Linked DNA regions of Homo sapiens: region 2 is linked to region 1. The links come from fine-mapping of genetic effects on gene expression. A gene starts in region 1. The other region holds a variant in brackets. All regions are shown on one strand. Distances are between the middles of the regions.

What was found. PIP is the estimated chance that this variant, and not a neighbour inherited with it, causes the effect.
Region 2: its variant is fine-mapped to the expression of GPX3 in whole blood (TOPMed, PIP above 0.99).

What each region holds. Positions count from the first base shown.
Region 1 is chr5:151,013,678-151,026,282 of GRCh38, forward strand. It overlaps GPX3 (glutathione peroxidase 3), which reads left to right and starts at 6,914. Exons shown (of 5, transcript NM_002084.5): 1 at 6,914-7,064; 2 at 11,663-11,816. The coding sequence starts at 6,978. RefSeq lists an enhancer at 8,359-9,558.
Region 2 is chr5:151,051,977-151,059,976 of GRCh38, forward strand. It overlaps TNIP1 (TNFAIP3 interacting protein 1), which reads right to left. Exons shown (of 18, transcript NM_006058.5): 6 at 4,790-4,981; 7 at 189-283. Among named protein-coding and RNA genes, the nearest start is that of TNIP1, 25 kb to the right of the region's middle. RefSeq lists an enhancer at 4,329-4,855. The variant CA/C (reference allele first, on the strand shown) is at 4,621.

The DNA of each region.
Region 1 (12,605 bases):
GAGATCATGCCATTGCATTCCAGCCTGGGAGACAGTGCGAGACTTCGTCGCAAAAAAAAAAAAAAGAAAGAAAGTATGGAGAGTAGGTGGAGAGGGGCTAGCAGAGACATAGGTAGGGCACCTTACCACTAAGAAATAGAGCAAAGGGTAGGTGCTTTATGTTCCAGAAGCATATAGATCCAAGAGGAGGGAAGGGACATTTTGGCTGAAAGCTTGGAACTATATCTAGCATAGATAAATGTGATTCTCATAGGTGCTTGTATTTGCTATGGGACCCTGGACCAATCATTCAGTCTCTTGAAGCCTTAGCCTCTCCCATAAGAGGGTGGAATGAGCTAGTCTCTAGGGATTCTTCTTTTTATAACTCTCCCTCTAAGTGGGCTTTGCAGGCAGAGGGAGTCATTAACTCCTGCTATGGTCTGAGTGTTCCCCCTCCCGCATATTCCGATATTGACTTTTTTTTTTTAAGAGTCTCACTCTGTCTTCCAGGCTGGAGTGCAGTGGCACGATCTCAGCTCACTGCGACCTCCAACTCCCTGGTTCAAGCAGTTCTCCTGCCTCAGCCTCCTGAGTAGCTGGGACTACAGGCGCACACCACCATGCCTGGCTAATTTTTGTATTTTTAGTAGAGATGGGGTTTCACCATGTTGGTCAGGCTGGTCTGGAACTCCTGACCTCATGATCCGCCTGCCTCGGCCTACTAAAGTGCTGGGAATACAGGCGTGAGCCACACTGCGCCTGGCTATATTGACATCTTAACCCCCAAGTGATGCTATTAGGAGGTGGGAACTTGGGAGGTGATTAGGTCATAAAGGTGGATGGAGCACTCATGAATGGAATAAATGCCCTTATAAAAAAGGCCCAAGAAAGGCCCCTCACCCCATCTACCATGTGAGGGTACAGTGAGAAGACAGCCATGTATGAGGAAGCAGGTCCTCACCTGATCCCAAATCCTTGATCTTGGACTTCCCAGCCTGAGAACTGTAAGAAATAAATCTGTTATTTACATGCCACCCAGTTTATAGAATTTTATTATAGCAGCCCAAACGGATTAAGACAACTCCATTTCAGGTAAGCCCAACAAACCTAGTATTTGCCAGGCCAGGTCCTGTTGAGGCTTAATTGAGAAATGTGTAGCAAATTGTTAGTAGTACAGGCCCGAGACCATGATCCTTAGACCGCTACACTTGGCCTGTGGTCAGCTCTTGGGAACTTCTATTTCAGAAGGATTTCCACCATTCCCCAAACTAATAAGAGTAGCTCATTATGCCTAAACTGGACAAACAATGCAGTTTCTGTTGACTGCCTAATTTTCTTCTGGGAGTTTAGAATTCTGGTATGTGCTTAGCCAAGGATGCCTATGTGACCAGCCCCTAACAAAAACCCTGGCATTGAGTCTCCAGTGAACTTCCCTGGTAAACAACATTTTACACATGCTGTTACAGTTCATTGACAAAGGAATGAAGCACATCCTGTGTGCTTAATTCAGCTGGGGGATGATTCTGGGAATCTCGTGGCTGTTTTCTTCCAGACTTTGTCCCATGCACCTTTTCCCTTTGCTGATTTTGTAACCTTGTGCTGTAATAAATCATAGTGTCAGTGTACTTATATGCTGAGTTCTGTGAGTCCTCCTAGCAAATCACTGAACCTAGAGGTGATCTGGGGACCCCCAACAGGAGTTAAGCCTAGATTTCACAGAGTCAATCATAATCTTGTGCCAGTCCCTTAAGAGTATACAGCTGAAACCAGTGCTATCCAACAGAGATATAATGTGAGTCACATGTAATTTTACATTTTCTAGTGGCTATATTTTAAAAACCAAAAAGAAACAGGCAAAACTAATTTTAAGCACATGTTTTCTTCAACCCAATATATTATTATTCTTTTATTTTTATTTTCGAGACAGAGTCTCACTCTGTCACCCAGGCTGGAGTGCAGTGGTACAATCACCACTCACTGCAGCCTCAATCTCCTGGGCTCCAGTGATTTGCCCAGCTAATTTTGAAAATTTTTGTAGAGATGTGGTCTCACTATGTTGCCCAGGCTGGTCTCAAACTCCTGGGCTCAAGCCATCCTCTTACCTCAGCCTCCCAAAGCGCTGGGATTACAGGCGTGAGCCATTATGCTCAGCTAACCCACTATATTAAAAATATATTTAAAATATTTCCATATGCAATTTTATTAAATTAAGATATTTTATATTCTTTTATCACACTAAGTCTTCAGAAAACACTGTGTGTTTTATACTCACAGCACAGATCAGTTTGTACTAGCCCTACTCCAAGCGTGCAACAGCCACACACGCCCATGGCCTGCCTGCTATATTGGCTTAGAGGTTAATGGCAAGGGCTCTGGAGACAGTATATGCGGAGGCTAAAGACACTCTGTCTAGGATGCTGATTCAACCATGTTGATTTCTGATTAACTCCAGTTCCAGGAAAGCCGCTAAGGTTTTCAGTTTATCTACTCTTCCTTGTGTAAGAGCATGTCCTTAACATAAATATTCCCCTTAGGTGAAAACAAACTTAATATTCTCACACTTCAGTTGGCCTACACATCCCTTCAATAGGGAAATCGCCCCTTCCCTATGCTATATAAGCCCTGGGCTGAGGAGGGGTAATAGCTTGGGGATCCACTATCTCACTTCACAGCCACCTAAGACTTCTGTGGCTTCTGTTTCTAAGTCCCTAATAAATGTTTCTTTCTGAGAAACTGGGTATGTCAGCTTCTTTCTTCAGCTTCTCAGCCTCCTCTGACTGGCTGGCGCGGGGGTGGGGTAGGTTTACAGAGATCTGCTCACAGCAGAATAGTATGTGTGGGTCAGAATCCCGGTTCTGTGACTTACCAACTGCATAACCTTAAGCAAAGTTGCTTAACCTCTCTATGTATTAGTTTCTTCATTTACAAAATGGGGATAATAATGTTGGCTACCTCAAGAGGTTGCAGAGATTAATTAATCTAAGGCAGCACCTGGTATAGATAGGATATTGAGTGAATGCTGGCTGCTACTCTCTTTATGCTAAAGCTTGGCCCATGGAGATCAACTTGTCTAACACCTCGTTCCATAAATGAGAAAACTGCAGCCCAGAGTTTGGAAGGCACTAGTTTCACAAGCAAAAACTACAGCCACCCACCTCTCCTCTTGATGAACTCCCTGTCTTCTGGCTGGCCCTGAGATCAAATTTGCCAATTATTTAGGAAATTGGCAGCTCCAGGGCCCCAGCTCGGTTCTGCAATTTCTCTCGATTGCAAAACAAGGGCTACTGTTTGAAGTTGGCACTGAAGTGACGCAGGCTGGGCCTCACTTCTGCTTCCACCTAGGCTCATCAGTTAGAGTGGCTGATCCCATCTTTGAGTTCAGAACCTGAAATGTTTACTAACCAATAATAAGGCTGGCTTTCGTTGTTTTAACTTTTTACAATCCTTTGAGTTTATTAATTTGTGTTCTATCTTCCTTGAAGACACAGTGCATCAGCACTTTTTGTAAAACCTCTTTTTAAGTCATCTTCGGTCTCTGTTCACCTACCAAGTAGGTAAGTAGTGAGCTCCCTATAGAGGTCTCTAAAAAATAGGATGAAGAGGTTCCGAGTGCTCACTTGTCTGGAATGCGGAAGACGTGTTCTCAGACTGGAAGCAAAACTAGCTTATGATTCTTCTACAGCTTCTCCTTCCATCCCTCCCTTCCCATTTTGGCCAATGCAAATCATCTACTCTCCTCTGACAAGCCTACTCATCATAACCCGCACGTCTTGAATCTTCCTAGAAGATGAAATCAGACCAGTCTTGCGGGCTCTACATGGTTACAACTTGCTAACTTGAAGCTCTCCTTATTCTATATGCCAAATATTGTTTTCCTTGACATTAATTTATTTGATAGATATGTATCAAGCAACTACTATGTATTAAGCTCTGTGCTGGTGCTGGTGCCTTTTTGGATCTTATAATTTAGTGCAGAAAATAGACAAACAAGAAATGATGATAAAGTACAACAAAGGGTCGATGTACAAAGTGTCAAATACTCTAGGAACTACAGGAAAACAAGGGAACCATCACGAAACCCCTGTCTTAAGACGTGACATTAGTGGAGATATGAAAAATGAGTAGGATAGTACCAGTTAAAGGGAGACAACCTCTGTTCCAAGCACAGGGAACAGCAGAGATGAAACCTGGAAGTGAGGGAGAATGGCAGACTGCAAGAACGGAAAAATGTCCAGTGTAGCGGAGGCAGAGAGAATATGGAGAGTGTGGCAAAAGAGGAAGAAGCAGATGGATTTTGAGGGCACTTTCTGAAGTGCTAAGGAATTTAGACTTTAACCTGAGGGCAATCAGAAGCAGCCTGGTGGAGAACGATATATTTCAAAACATAGGGTCCTTGAAAACAAGTCAACCAAATGTATTTAAAAGGCTGCTGATGAAAAGATTGGGAAGTATTGTTTTCATTCTCATTGTTTTCACTGTCATGCTCTTTGTGCCAATGGTTAGACCTCCTTTGAAAGCTCACTGCAGCATGAAAGCCCTTCTTAATGCCAGGGCAGGCTCCCCAAGCCTCCCCACCCCACTGTCCATGTCATCAGTTTTGTACTCCTGTTTTGTATGGCTCAGGCTTTCCTTATACTCTTAGGAATGAAAAGCCACAGACACCACCACTGAGAGACTGTCAAAGATCCTTGTTAAATAGGTGGACAACTGAGATCAGAGAAGGAAAGTAATTTTATTACTTTCCGTAGCAATCCAGGGGTAGCATCTCAGGTCTCTGGCTCCTTCTTGTCTCCCCTAAAGAAATAGACCACCAGGGCTGGGATTAAGGTGAGACAAGTGAGACATAGAGGGTGCAAAATGTAGAGAGATGCCCGCTGCCAGGTGCCAGCCTGCACTTGTGTGACCCTAGGTGCCTTCCCTTCCCTCACCCTGCTGGTATCTGCTGGAAACACCTTTGAGAGCAGGGACTTTGGCTTTTAGACAACTCTTTAGCATCTCTCATGGTGTTAACATGTTGCTAGGTGCCTATTTTGAGGGTCACTAGATGCCTACTGATACTAATGAACAATGGATTTCTGACAAACTGATGTGCACACAGATGTTTATATTTTAGGGTAAATACGAACCTTAAAAGACAACAGAACAACATGGAGAGGGCCTGAGACTGAGTCTAGAGACCTGGATTCTGGTTCCCTCCCTGCCATCAGTTGGTTATGGGAACTTGGATAAATTGCTCCTCATCTCTAGGCTTCAGGGAAATGAGGTGGTTGAATAAAACGTATTGAGCACTTACTGTGTGTCAGCCATTGTTCATATGCTCCCAGGCTTTAACTCAGCTAAAGACTTCCTGGCCTCTGTGGTTCCTTCCACTTCAACAGGCTGTGGTTTGAGGTGGGAAGACTTCGTAGAGAATGCAAAACTTGAGAGACATCTTCCAAATTCCCAGGGGGATGTTAATACCTTTAATCATAGTAAAGGTATGGTTTCTCAAGGCATTTCTTGGTCAGAAGAAAGTTCCAGAAGGCACTTAATCCTAGGACTCACACTACCAAGGCTACAGCCAGGCCAACTGCCTCACAATAACCTTAGAACATGTCTGAAGACAGATTTTCAGCTTCTGCCCCTAGAGATTCTAATGCAGTGATTCCAAAGTGGGGTCCAGGAATCTGTATTAAAGGCTTCCCAGTTGACTCTGGTGGTCAGAGAGATTTGAGACTGATTCCATCACATTCCCCATCTGTGAACGGGATCATACCTAGACAGCCCAGCCCTAGAACTGCCTGGTCTGATCCTAAGTGTTCCATGGAGATTTTGTTTTTTTAATGTAATGAATGATTAAGTCAGCAAATACTTTACATCTCTTGTGTGCTAGGCCCTGTGCCAGGTGGTGATTATGGGCCCTATTCTCAAAGGACTCCTGGTCTCCGTCTGTCACTTACTTTAGAAACAAGTCATCTAGCCAGAGCCAGAAGGGCACTGGAGATCACTAATCAATCCCATCATTACATAGCTGAGGAAACTGAGGCCCAGAGAGTAACTGCAACATGTTAAAGACTACACAGGGAGCAAATTTATTTTCTGCTTCTAAGCCAGGTGGTTTGGCCACAGATAGGCCAAGAAGAATACGAACAGACAAGCCTTGCTGGGTTTCCCACTCAGTTTATTACTATTAGACCATTCCCTTTTTCCCCACTCACATTTCTGCGCATTTCCATGGTCTTCATAGAATCTAAGCCTAAAAATAGAGTTTTCCTTGAGTCTTTGGGTCTTCATTTCTGAAGACTCTCATGTCACAGAAAACTTTAATTAAATAAATCGTTATGCTTTTCTCTTGCTAACCTTTTTCTACAGGCATGTCAGCTGTGATCCTTATGATGGGGAGGAAAGGCACCCCACCTTCTCTGTCCCTACAGTCCTAATGCCCTACCCAGAATGGGGTTTTCAAAATCCCAGGACACCCACTCTTTGTTTCTTAAGCACTAAACCTATATATAGTAAATGTTTCTGGAAGTTTAACTTCAGCTCTTGCTGAAATTTTAAACCCTCAATTTCCAGAGGACCATCGCCAGGTGTTTTTAAAACCTCGATAGGAATAAGAAATGCTTCCCAGAATGGAGACTTCCATCAGTTCTAGGGAGCTATTAGCCCCCTTGCCCTGGCTGTAATGGAGACCGCTGTGTCTGCCTCCTTTCGCACTTTGGAGCCAAAAGAGGAAGGGACCGCCTCCCACGTCCACAGGGACCTGACTTCCACCTCTCTGCCCAGATTTGCTTATGTCACTGTCGCCCCGGGACGGGGAGGTGGGGAGCTGAGGGCAAGTCGCGCCCGCCCCTGAAATCCCAGCCGCCTAGCGATTGGCTGCAAGGGTCTCGGCTTGGCCGCGGATTGGTCACACCCGAGGGCTTGAAAGGTGGCTGGGAGCGCCGGACACCTCAGACGGACGGTGGCCAGGGATCAGGCAGCGGCTCAGGCGACCCTGAGTGTGCCCCCACCCCGCCATGGCCCGGCTGCTGCAGGCGTCCTGCCTGCTTTCCCTGCTCCTGGCCGGCTTCGTCTCGCAGAGCCGGGGACAAGAGAAGTCGAAGGTGAGTGAGCCTCCGGGCCGGGGGCCGGGAGAAAAAACCTAGCCCCTCGGTGTCCAGCGCTCAGTGCAATGCACCCCTTTTCCCAGGCTCCCCGCCAGATGGGCAATCCCCAGGTGCGAGAGACCTCCTGAACCCCTTTTGCCGCCCCCTCCGCCGCCGGGACCCCGCCCCCGACCGTCGTCGTCTCGTAGTTCCATCTGTTGGAGAGCCGAGACCTGGTGCTTCAGGCGGGCAGAATGACTAAGGGAGGAAGGTCTCTCTCCCCGAGCTCGCACTTTCTCCCCACTGCCACCTCGAGGGTCGCCTTGCTACATCTATGTCACCTCCGTGCCTGAGCTGCTCCCCTTCAGTAGGGCCTAAGAGGGAGGGCGTCACAGAAAAAAATGCCCAGCGTCTGGGTGGGCTGTGCAAGTTCCCAGGGAGAGAGACAAGGAGAAAGGAGAGAGGCAGCTGGGTGGTCCTGGTCCTGAAGAACTGCTGTGGGGGGCTCTTCTACCCCAAGAATGATACAGGCAGGTAGAAATGGCCACTTGGATTCAGGGCATTGGTAGAAGAGGCAGAGATCTGTGCTAGAAAGAGCTCTGGAGTGACAGTGCAGAACACTCAGGACCCTGAGTCCTTACCTGCTCCTGGACCCCCGTTTCTCCATCTGCAGGGGAGAGTTTGGGGGTGGGAGTGCATGGGGCACAATGAAGCTGAGGGCCTCAGAGGGGATGCTTGGAGAAGCTGAAAAATCCACAAGCTGTTCTCTGAAATTTCCTCCCCTGGGGCAGCCTCACTACCCAGGACCCACTGTCCTCATTAGCCTGAGGAAACCTGGTAGTTGGAGAAAGCTGGGGACTGCTAATTCAGAAGAAGAGGTAGAATTCTCTAGAGCCTCAGTCTATTTCCAGCAGGTGTGTGGCCCACACCTGGAGTGGGGATACTGAGGCCAGGAGTGGGATGACCCAGCATGCTTATCTCCTTTGACAGTATGTACTGGGGTGGGCTCTGTAGACCTCTCCTCTACCCAGGGAGTGGGAGTGGGTGGGGAAGGAGGCAGAAGCCAGGTGTAGGGATAGACTCAAAGCGAGCGATTTCTGTCTCCAACTTCCCAACATGCATAACTCACATTTTTGCAAGCTCTGAGCTTTTGTTTCTAAAATCCTCTGGGTCTTCACTTTAATTAAGTTCTTATGAGTCTAGGATTCCGTTTCCAAAATTCTGTCCACTTCTCAGGAAGCCCATTGGAAGCACAGGGTTCCTTCCATGTTACTCACCCCTTTTCGGTCCTCAGCCTAAATCCGATTAATCAGCCTCTCCTTGGAGTCAGTCTAAATGGATGTGAAGCCACTTCGTCCAAGTCCCCTCCTTTTTATCCATCCCTGTTCATAATCCCCAACTCAGAAGGCATTTTCCAGGTCAGGAATGGGATCGATTTTCAACATTGAGGTTTGGGGTGGGCCATAGACAGGCCAGCACCGTGGAGTCAGTCCCAACCTTCAGTTTTGGAAAGGTCAAAGAAGATACAATTGGGCCCTGCCTCAAGAAGGCTAGTGGGGAGAACGTGGACTCCATGAATAACTCATCATAGCTGTGTCTTCTCTGCAGCACTCTGGGGAAGGATAAATGGACTCAGAGAGAATAGGATGGGGATGGTCTAGAAAAGTTTTAGGGTGAGGTGTGATCATATCACATACAACCAGTCAGGACTTGCTGGCTAATGAAAGCCTGGGCATGCCCATCTCTGCTCCCAAGTTCTTAGAGTTCAGATGTCTTAGCTCTGGGTTAGGACCCAACCACTCACCTTACCCCCAACCCCAGGGTAAAGAGATAGGGTTATGGGGCATGTGGAGAATGGAATGGACGAAAGGTGACTCAGCCCCAGAGAGGTGTTTTCCTCCTACCAATTGAAAGGGAGATGCTAGGGAAGAGACCAGGTCCTCCTCTTCTTGCTGCGTCACCTCCCCAGTCCAACTTCAGGCTGCCCACGCTCCTTGTCTCTACAAAAGGACTGCAGAAGCCGGAAAGAGTGACAACTGCTGACGTGCACGGGATCCTAGTAACTGCTGGTTTCTAGGTGACTAAACCTGGCAGAGAGAATCATGGAACCACAGGCTGACAGAGTTAAAGGGCCCTTAAGACAGCCCTGAACCTGACTCCATCTTACAATGGAGGAGCTGGAGCCCCAGCAAAGGGGGTCACATGGCATCAGAGACACAGCAAAGCCCAGCACTCAGGTCTCCTGACTCCCAGACCACTTCTCACAGCATCATATTGATAGGAGTAATAAGACGGGAGAGGAGAAAGACACAAGACCAGCAGCCCCAGCCAGCCAGAGTCCTGGCTGAGTCCCATCATCCAACTCTCAAGCCATTGGAACCCTCTTCTCTTGCCCGGCTGTGGGAGGATTCAGGCACCCTCATGGCCTCTCCCCTTATCTCCTCTGGCCACTGTTTCAGATGCGGTGCTCTGGGATTCCACGTGCCCAGAGAAGGGAAGGGGGCTCATAGAGGACTGAGTTGCAGTGATCAGTGGTGAGCACAGCCGTGGCTCTCCACCCATGGGCCACCTTCTGACCCCCACTATCCCTTGACATGAGATTTCGTTCCAAGAGACTCCAGGCCTGTTTTGCTCTGCCAGCAGATTCCCACAACCATTTTGGGCAGCAGCATGCTTATCTCCCTGGACATATGCCCAGACAGTGTAAGTGACTTGCTCAGGGCCACACAGCCAGCAAAAAATAGAACCTAATGAAATAGGGTTCTCCTTGCCACACCCCCAAGCTGAAACTGTGCCCAGAAGCTGGTCCTTCTGTTTACAAGTTCCCATTATTAGGACAACCTGTAATCTTTTTTTCCTCCATGTCTCAGAGTTCATTTTTGGATCATGGCAGAGTTAAAAAAGTGGAGAGGCTATAGACATGCCTGGCTTTCTGGCCACTAGATCTTTGTGGCGGTCTAGGGTGTATTTGTTGTGCCCCAGTTTGTCTGCATTTTAAGGCGGAACTGGCCCTGGCTGGGAACGAGGAGGTCCAGGAGCAGTAGGAATGTTGATCTTAGGTCTTGGGCCTGCCTCCAGCACCCACCAAAAGTCACCGGATGTGGAATATTAGACTCATGTAAAGCAGGAAGTTTGCACCAGAGCCAAGAAGAGAGCTTGCAGCTGCCAGGGAATGGCCTGGCGGAGGAAGCGCAGCCTCGCCCAGCTCAGCAGACCTGCTTCATGACAGAGGCAGCTCTTCTGCACTCTACTGGGGCCACGCCCTGCCAGCATATATCACTCCCTTCACCTGGTCAGGCCCAGGTACCTTGCCTCAACAGCAAGTTCTCCAGAATTGAGGGGAAGAGAGGGAGTGAATTTGCTTCTCTAACTCCAGCCACCTGTCTCTGCCCTCTCCTGGTCTATAATGCTACTTTGCATTCCATTTGTTTATTGTCTGCCCACCTCTCAAAGGATATCAGGGCCACAAAGGACCTTAAAGACCACCTTATACAATGGTTTCAAGGTTTCTCCTTTCCCATCACGACCAGCCCACCTGCCAAATTGTGTCAATGATGCAATGACATCCTTTCAAGAATAGTCTCAGAATTTTGTTGTCTGTGTCACGGGCAGAGTAGGCTCATAGGCCACATCCTACTAGCCAGCAGTGACCCCAATCCCCTCTCTCCCACTGATCATGATCCTATCAAGCCATCATGGTTGACCTGGTTGGAGAGTTGGTTCAGTTCAAGGTTCTCATTTTATAAATGAGGAAACTCAGGTCCGAAGAAAAGAAAGGGCCAGTCCAAGACCACACAGGGAGTTAATGGCAAAGGGACATGGAGCCCAGGTCTCCCAGCCCACAGTCCACTGCACTCTGTCCCTCCTTGTCCTGGAGGCTGACTGTGAGCAGCAGCTGGGGAGGGAGGAAGGCATAAGGGTCATCACCAGCCTGCTCAGACCCGGAACATTAACACATGCAGGTACTGTTGCTTTTCCCTACCTCACCACAGCCCTTTCCCCCATGCCTGGCTCTCAGTCCTGCTTCCCTATTTGGTAACAACAGCTTCATCTTTCCTGTCCTGCAGATTGGGAGCCTCTGAATCACCATGTCCATACGGCCTCTTCCTCCTTTCTGTTCAGTTTTTCCTTCACACTGGCCTAGTTCAGGTTCTCATCCTCAATTGCCTGGATTATTCCAACAGCCACCCAACCAGTCTCCATCAGCCCGTCTAGGAACCCAGTCATCAGCTTTAGGGCAGTCTCCCTGAGAGCCCAGTAAATGTTCTGAAATTGACATGTGATGTGGAAGTAATTAGCAAAATAAGTCATTCTCCAGGGTTCCATAGCACTCACTTATTAAGTGCTTAATATTAATAAGTGCTTATTAGGTGCTTAATATTAATAAGTGCTTTTTAAGCACTTAATATTAAGTACCCGAAAAGCACTTATTAAGTGCTTTCATAATCATTATCTTAAACAAGGAATTAGGAGACGTCAGTGCTAGTCCAGTTCCAATTCTCGGTGATTACTTTGAGAAAGTCACTCTCTCTGTTGGGATCTTTCATTCTTTTGAAAACGGAGATGTCCAAGTTCCTTTCCAGCTCTAACTGCTCCTTTTATGGCCTGTGTTCCAGATGGACTGCCATGGTGGCATAAGTGGCACCATTTACGAGTACGGAGCCCTCACCATTGATGGGGAGGAGTACATCCCCTTCAAGCAGTATGCTGGCAAATACGTCCTCTTTGTCAACGTGGCCAGCTACTGAGGCCTGACGGGCCAGTACATTGGTAAGAGCCCACCCTTCCTCCCTGCTTTATTTGGGGCTGTATGGCATATTTCAATCACAGGAGCTTTTCTGGTGCATGGGGGAAAGGGTGATGGCAATCACGAGAGTCCAAGCCCCTTTTCTCAGCTCCACTGTGTTCCGTGGTTTTGTGAAGATGATTATATAAGCCTGAGGTCTGATTGCCTTTGGACATGTTCTAGGAGATTCCTAGTTATCCTTCTTCATCTCTGGGCACCTCAACAACCCTAAAGGCAGAGGGATAGAGATTAGGTTTGTGCTTAGAGCTCCCTTTGGCTGGAGCATGAGATGGTAACTGAAGCTCCATCTTGCTGAGAATATCTTATTTTCCCTCAGCCCCATCTGCTTTGGTGCTTCTCTTGGCAGCTCTCTGGAAAGCAGGCAATTGCCTCGAGGCCCCAGAGTGTATGCGTGGTGTAGCGGGATGAAGGAGCAGGCTACACTTCTAATGCCCATTCTAAAATAAACTTTGAAGATGATCTAGTTTAGCCTTCCCCTCTTCTCAATCTACACATGGGAAACCAAGACTCAGAGCGAAGATACAACTTAAACAGGGTCACAAAGCTATTAGCGGTGGAATGGGGCATTTGGCGCAGGTTTCATGATCTCCTGATATGCTTACTCCTTTCTCCCTAGCTGGGGTAGAATACAGAGGCTAGGGGAACAGGCAACCAAAGGCAAGCGACAGCACCCAGGGGAAAACGCTTTGGGGCTGAGCAGTCTACTGGCAGGGGGTCAGGGAGGCAAGGGCAATTTGACCCTCCATGCTCTG
Region 2 (8,000 bases), 36 kb after region 1:
TGGCAAAAGGGCCAGAGAGAAAATACCAAAAGAGCCAAGGAGAAGGATCAAGAGACGTAACCTCCAAATAGGGCTCTGGGCACAGGGCCTCAGAGCCACGGTCCTCAACCCAGAAATCAGTGCTGCACACCAGCCCCTCCTCCTGCAGCCCCCACTCCTCACCCCTTCTCTGAGGGGCCTGAACTTACCGCAGCCTCTCGGCAGCCTGATCCCGCTGTTCCAGGCCCTTATCCAACTTGGCCTTCAGAGCCTCGTTCTCCTTCCGAAGCTGCTCACACAGGGTCTGTGGGGCAGGGGAACAGACAGGGTGAGGGAAAGGAGGGGCCCCTCCCAGGTGCAGGCTGAGCTAGAGGATGGTGGGGGGCCTGTAGCCACCCCAGGGCCCAACTCCTTATCCCCTTTGCCTGGCCTCACCCCATCCCTCTCTAAGGAGCTAAGCCACTTGGCCACCCACGTGTCCTCTCCCTTGGGAGCCAACTACGGAGAAGCCTGACCAAGTATCAGCCATGGGGCCTTCTGCTCCTCCAAGACAGACAGCTCCATCCCTTCTCCTTCATCCCTGCTCCCACTGCCGGGACCCCTATTCCCCACCAGCCTCCCCCAGCTGACTTCTACCCTTCTTTGAAGTCTTAGTTTAAATCCCATCTCCTCAGAGAAGTCCTCCCTGACTCCCCGATCCAGCTACATTAGGCTAACTCCGTTATCCTTGCTCACAGCCCCCCGCTTTTACGCTTCTCAGCACCTGTGGCAGATAAAGCTAAAGAACTGTTCGTGCTGCTGTTTTCTTAATATCTACCCCCTTACCCCTAATTAATTCCTGAGCTCCCGGAGGGCTGGGACCCCTAACCATCCTCTTGTTCACTGCCAGATCCCCAGCCCCCAGCTCAAAGTTTGTGGAAGGAACAACATGACTGAACAGCCAAATGAGCAAATGGACAAATGAGCAGGCGAGTCCTAGGGGGGCTGAAAGGCACACCAATTTGCAGGTGTGAGAGGTGCCCAGTGTTGCCAAGGGGAAAACCAGAAGACAAGGCATTCAGTCGGGACCTCACTATGCCCTCACGCCCTCACAATGTGGCTGTGACACTTGGTTCCTCCTCTACAAAAGAAAGACAACTGTTTCTCTTTTTTTTTTTTTTTTTTTTTTTTTTAAGACAGAGTCTCACTCTGTTGCCCAGGCTGGACTGCAGTAGCATGATCTCAGCTCACTGCAACCTCCACCTCCCAGGTTCAAGAGATTCTCCTGCCTCAGCCTCCTGAGTAGCTGGAACTACAGGTGTGTGCCACCATGCCTGGCTAATTTTTGTATTTTCAGTACAGACGGGGTTTCACCATGTTGGCCAGGCTGGTATCAAACTCCTGACCTCAAGTGATCCACCTGCCTCAGTCTCCCAAAGTGCTGGGATTACAGGCATGAGCCACCACACCTAGCCCAGGGACAACTGTTTCTTCTCTGCCTCCTCTATAGGGCTGCTGAGAGGGACAGATGAGACAGTGAGAGTGGAAGTGTCCATGAACCATCAGTCACTTGCTTATGTGCGGGGACTCATATTGGAAGCTCTGTGAACTGGGGGCATGGAAGAGGGGTCGCCAGACTCAGGACCTCACAGGCTGGGGGGAAGGGAAGGTGCTGACTAGCAATGCTAGCATACAGTGTCAGCACAGAGTTGTTCAATCTTTCCACAGATCCTCACTGAGCACCTCACCTGTGCCAGGTACATTGCTCGGTGTTTCTCCATATACTGCCTCACTGGTGCCTCACAACTTCCTCAAAGCTAAGTAACTCATCTCTATGTTAAAGGTAGGGAAACCAGGTAAAATGATACAGTCTAACAGGTGCACAGCTGCTAAGACTCATCACTGGCGGGGAGTAAAACTCCAATTGGCAGACCCCACACTGGTGTCTCTTTCCCCTGTGATGAAAGATCAGAGAAGGGAGAGAGATGGTGCCCAAAGGAGGGGACAGCCTTTGAGCTGGGCCAGGACCAGGGCCATTCACTAAACAGCCATCTGCTGCCTTCCACCTCCCAGGCCTGTTGCAGGTGGATGCAACCATGTGACTAGTTCTGGCCAACAAAAGAGGTGTAGAAGGGACAAGCATCACTCCTGGACTGGCCTACGCACAATTCTCCAGTCTCTTTTTCCTGGTAGCAGGGGCTGATGTGGATGCCTCGTATTCTAAAGGGCACCGGAAAGTTGGGCCCCTGTCTCCCTGGGACTCTAAGGAACTGTGTAGAGCAGAAACAAACCCCTGCCACACAGAATAGGAGGGAAAACTTTTGTTGTGTAACCCAGGGAGATTTCAGAGTTGTTTCATTTCTGACTCACAAAGGAGACTCTTGGGAAGGCTGAATGGAGGACACAGCCTTCAACTGGAGGTGGCTGGACAATGAGGGAGATGAGGCTTAGCAAACAGAGAACCAGCTGGGCATGGTGGCTCACACCAGTAATCCCAGCACTTTGGGAGGCTGAGGCAGGAGGATCACTTGAGCCCAGGAGTTCAACACCAGTCTGGGCAACATGGCAAAACCCTGTCTCTACTAAAAATACCAAAAAATTGGCCAGGCATAAGGGCGCATGCATGTAGTCTCAGCTATTCAGGGAACTGAGGTGGGAGAACTGAGCCCAGGAGGTCAAGGCTGTAGTGAGCTGTGGTCGCACCACTGCACTCCAGCCTGGGTGGCGGAGCAAGACCCTGTCCCCCAACACCCCTTAAAAAAAAGAAATCAAAAAATTATTGTTATGAGTCCATTCAATGCCTAGCAGAGAGCCTTATGCTATACCTGACCTTGAATATGTTTGTTTAGTGAACCAAGAAACACATCAGTGAATGAATGAGGAGGAACTGGATCAATACACCTCCACCCAGGCAGTAAAAATACCCAAGATGCCATGTCTCTGGGCGAGGCCTCCAGGGAACAGAATGGCCTGCTCCTAGTCCCTAAGGGAAGGCCAGGACAAGGCCTCACTTGCTGTCCTACCCTTGCAGTCTAGAGAGCTGTTTCCTTGGAGTCTCTGGGCCAATGCCCTGGGTGCAAACCGGCCAATGGATAGAATCATCAGAGGTCACAAAGATCATCACCTTCCATCCAAGGTGCTACGAGAGCTATGAGTTCATTTGATCATTTATTATTTTGTCCTTTCATTCATTCACCAAGTGTGTATGAAGTGCCACGAACTGGGACGCAACAGTGAATACAACAGACATGGTGCCTGCCCCCCTCAAGCTTACCTTCTAGCAGAGAGTATAAGAAAAAAAAGAGTATAAGAAAAAATGTATTAAATAAAATTATTACAAACTATGATAAGAGCTAAGAAGGAAATAAACAAGGAGGGGACTGAAATAAAAAATAACAGAGGTTGGCAGGACCCCTTTTAAGGGGCCTAGGATCTATCCCCATCTCAAAGCTGAAAAGTGGATGCGCAAAGTGCTCTCACCCCAGGCACCTTCCTACCCTGCCCACAGCCTAGGCACTGTGCCAGGCTCACCTTGCCAGGGTTCAGCCTGGATACCTTGAAGCCTCACTGACATCTTAAAGGGGTTCCCTTCTCTCAGCCTGGCTCTCCAGGCCTCTGCCTCTCGTTCAGCCTCACCTCCCAACACACCCCTCCCCTCCAGGTGGGATGGGCATCCTCCGTGCTCCTCTACCCCCACACCTCTCCTCATACTGCATCTCCAACCTGATTGCCCTTCATGCCCTCGGCAACCAAGGTCACGCAAGGGGGACTCCCCCTTCTGCCATCAGCGGGGCACTTGAGTGCCTGCTGACATGAATGAGACCACAGATCAGAGAATGGCCTGGGAGGAGAGTCTGCAGGGAGTAAGGAGGCTTCAAGTCATGGCTCTGTCACTAAGGTGGCGGGCACTCAGATCACGAGCAGTCCCTCAGAAGCCTCCGTTTTGCCATCTTTAGAATGGTCACCAATTATAACTGAACACTTCCCCGCTGCTAAAGCCCACAAGGCTAAGACCCCCTGCCCAGTGTGGATGCCCGTCATGAACTCCGAATGGGGACCTCTCTTCCAGCATGGACTAGGTTCTGGACTGCACTGGGTGCTTCATGTACATGGCCTCATTTAATGCAGCAATCTAACCATGGAGGCACTTCTAGCTCATGTTACTGATAGGAACATTGGGGGATAGAGAGGATAAGTGACTTGTCCAAGGTCATACAGCAATAAAGGGTCACTACTGGAACCAAGGACCATATAACTCCAAGGTCTGGCCTGGCCTAGCAAGGAAATCTGTCCATTCCCCACAGCACAGGGAGGCTTTCAAAAGGAATTCAATAGGGGAGGCAGGTTGGGATGGTGGTCAAGAGTATGGGCTTTGGAATGCGAGAGATCGAGGTTCCAATCCCTACTTCACCATTTACCAGCTGGGTGACCTTGGGCAAAAAAAGGGCTGCTTCCCCACCTGTGAAGTGGTGATAATGAGGGTGCCTACCCTGGGGGGAAAGAGGCATTATGAAAGGAGTTGACCTTTGTTCCCTCCCTTCCCATCCCCCAACCCTGCACATGAGAAATAAAGGCAGGGCTGCTGGGGGTATCCCCAACCATGACACTCGCATTGCCCATCCCGTATTTCCCCATTTCCTTCCTCTTCCTCATCCCTCCCCA[CA/C]ACTTCCTTATCCTGTTCATCACCCTGAACAAAAAGCCCGAAGTCTGCCCACAACACAGCCTTCAGAAGTCCCCATGGTACCAGTGGATTCCCAGGAGCAGGAAGGTGGGAAGAGCTCGGGGGGAAGCACGCCTGCCTGTCTCGGGCTGCCCTCCCCACGCGCCTCACCTGCAGAATGGAGGTGCGCTGCTCATTCTTGTGCACCTTGGATGCCAGTCGGTTGAACTCCAGGGCCATGCGGCCCAGGTGGGTGAAGAGCTGGCCGTGGTCCGGCTCCTCGGCACACACACTCAGCGTGGTCTCCAGGCGCTGCAGGTGCAGCATCAGGTTGCCGTCCTCACGGGGCAGGGGGCCCAGCGCCTGGAGAGGGAAAGGGCACACGGCCCACTCTTCACCAAGGCCTGAGTAGGCGCCGCCAGTCCATTCTCCCTCTGCTTCCTCATTTCTCATGACTCAGTTTCCCCCTGTGACCCCAGCTCAGCCCCGGGAAATTCTCCAGTTATGCAGGTTCCCTGTCTGGGGCTGACTCACAGGGCAGAACCCAGGACTCACAGGCCACTGGTGGCTCCACAGCAGCGGGGCCACCATCCTCCCACACACTGGGCCTTGCAGAGTGCCTGACAGTAAGTCACTTGTCTGCTGGACCTCAGCATCCTCATCTACCAAATGTCCGCACAACCCTTCCCTCCCTTCAACCTCACAGGGTTCTTAGGAGGATGAATTGACCCCTGACAGTAACAAGCCCAGAAAAGGGACATCACTGCACAGTCAGCCCTCCATATCCATGGGTTCCGCATCCATGGATTCAACCAACTGCAGATCAAAAATCTTCTAAAAAAACAAACTGGCCGGGCGCGATGGCTCACGCCTGTAATCCCACCACTTTGGGAGGCTGAGCGGGCAGATCACAAGGTCAGGAGATCAAGACGGCCTGAGTGGTGAAACCCTGTCTCTACTAAAAATACAAAAATTAGCTGGGCATGGTGGCACGTGCCTGTAATCCCAGCTACTTGGGAGGCTGAGGCAGGAGAACTATTTGAACCAGGGAGTCGGAGGTTGCAGTGAGCAGAGATCGCACCACAGCACTCCAGCCTGGGCAACAGAGCAAGATTCCGTCCCAAAACAAACAAACAAAAAACTGTATTGAACATGTACAGAATTTTTTTCTTGTCATTATTCCCTAAACAATACAGTATACCAAAATTTAGCATTTACATTGTATTAGGTATCGTAAGTAATCTAGAGATGATTTAAAGTATATAGGAGGATGTGTATAGGTTATAGGGAACTACTACGCCATTTTACATCAGGGACTTGAGCATCCATGGATTTTGGGTATCCTCAGGGAGTTCTGGAACCACTCTCCCATGTTTACCAAGGGACATCTGCATATACGTCCTGCAACCTCCGCCTCCTGGGTTCAAGCGATTCTCCTGCCTCAGGCTCCTGAGGAGCTGGGATTACAGGTGTGCACCACTACACCAAGCTAATTTTTGTATTTTTAGTTGAGACGGGGTTTCACCACAATGGCCAGGCTGGTCTTGAACTCCTGACCTCAGGTGATCCACCCACCTCGGCCTCCCAAAGTACTGAGATTACAGGCGTAAGCCACCATGCCTGGCCTACACATGTGTCTTCTGGGGAATGGCCCAAGCATTCATCAGCTTCTGAGGACCCAAGACTCAAAACAGTTTAAGGAACCACAGCTTTAGCTATTTCAGAAAGTCCCAAACTAGTACAGTATGTAAGAAATAAAGCACACCGTGGGCCAGATAGTTGACTCTTTCTCTCTAGTCTATCTGGAATACTCCTACCAAAGACATTGCCTTTGTTACACCAATTCCACTCCCAAGGACCTGCAGTGTTACCCTACTGCAGACGGCACTGGGCCCAGCTCCCCTGCTGGGCATCTAAGGCCCTACAGCCGCAGGTCCCATCCACAGCAGCATCCAGTTGGGCTCCCCACTTTACCCTGCCTGAACCCACACACACCAGGTCTGGTGTCTCTGCATGTGTCCTCTCTGTGTCCTCTCTGCCTCTGCAAGTTCTGCTCATCCTTCCCACCCTGTCCACGGCTCAGCTCCTCCAGCAGCCTCCCGGAAACAGTTATGGGAATCACAGGACAGCAGAGCTACAGGGAGCCTCAGAGATCAGGCCGGGAAACCAAGCTATGGGGAGGAGGAACTTGCCCAAAGTTGCCCTGTAAGTCAGTGGCAGAGGTATAACGAGAACTGAGGTTTCCTGACTCGCCATCCAGTGCTCTGCTGCACTGACCTCCCACTTCTCTGAACTCTGGAGGAATGGCAATGACTATAACCCCAACTTGGCATTCCCTGAACACCTGTGTAATGGCGTCAGTGTGCCGCATTCTAACAAGAGGAAATGCTGCTGTTTCAACTCTGCATCCATTCCCCCACTGCCTCTTTCCACAAAGGAGCTGAGGTGGCAGATGCTGCTCTATTTAAGGCTCATGCGATGCTTCCCATGCCTGCGACTTCTCCAGACTACAAGCTTCAGAGCACAGGGAGGCTGTGTTGTCTTGGCTCAAGTGGCTCAGCAGAGACAGGCACACTGTAGAGCTAATGAGGAACTTACTACGTCAGTTAAAGTTATCGGTCCAAAGTCAGAGTGAAACACTTTCTGAGCAGGGGATCTTGCCTCCATGGCCAGCATCTCAGAGCCCTCAGGGACAGAACAGGACAAGGGGACAGAAGGTTCCAGGCGACAGAACATAAAGAGCCTTTCCAATACTCAGAGCTGCCTGAGGCAGTGGTGAGCCTCTCAACACTGAAGGCATGCTAGTTAGCCAGACAGCCACCTGAGGGGGCCCTGCACTGGGCACTGACAGGTACATGGGGCAACCAGTGAACACAAGCATATTTGTCAGCCAAACCTTTGTGAAGGGAGGCAGCAGGGATCAATATATCAGTGAAGGGCTAGAGCACCTATTGCTCGCATAACAACAATTAAAGAAAAAAACTTAAAAGTGGGAAGGAAGGGAGAATGGAGAAGGTAGAAATTTAAGTCGTTTAAAGAATCTTCCAGACTTTTCACAATGGTTCTTCAATAAGTCTGCCATTTTAAGAAAGAACAGAAGGAGATATAGTTAGGAAAAAGGCAGCCAGTGTTGTAAGGTGTGGAATGAGGATGCTGGGCAGACGCTCCAGAGCTGTACGAGAGACAGAGAGAGAGAGAGAGAGAGAGAGAGAGAGAGAGAGAGAGAGAGAGAGAGTGTGTGTGTGTGTGTGTGTGTGTGTGTGTGTGTGTGTGCGCGCGCGCGCGCGCATGCGTGTAAGTGGAAAGTTGAACCTCCTTCCTGTGTGCTCCAAGAGTCTGCACAAAGAGCAAATCACCTGTCTTACAGGGCCCTGGGCCTTCC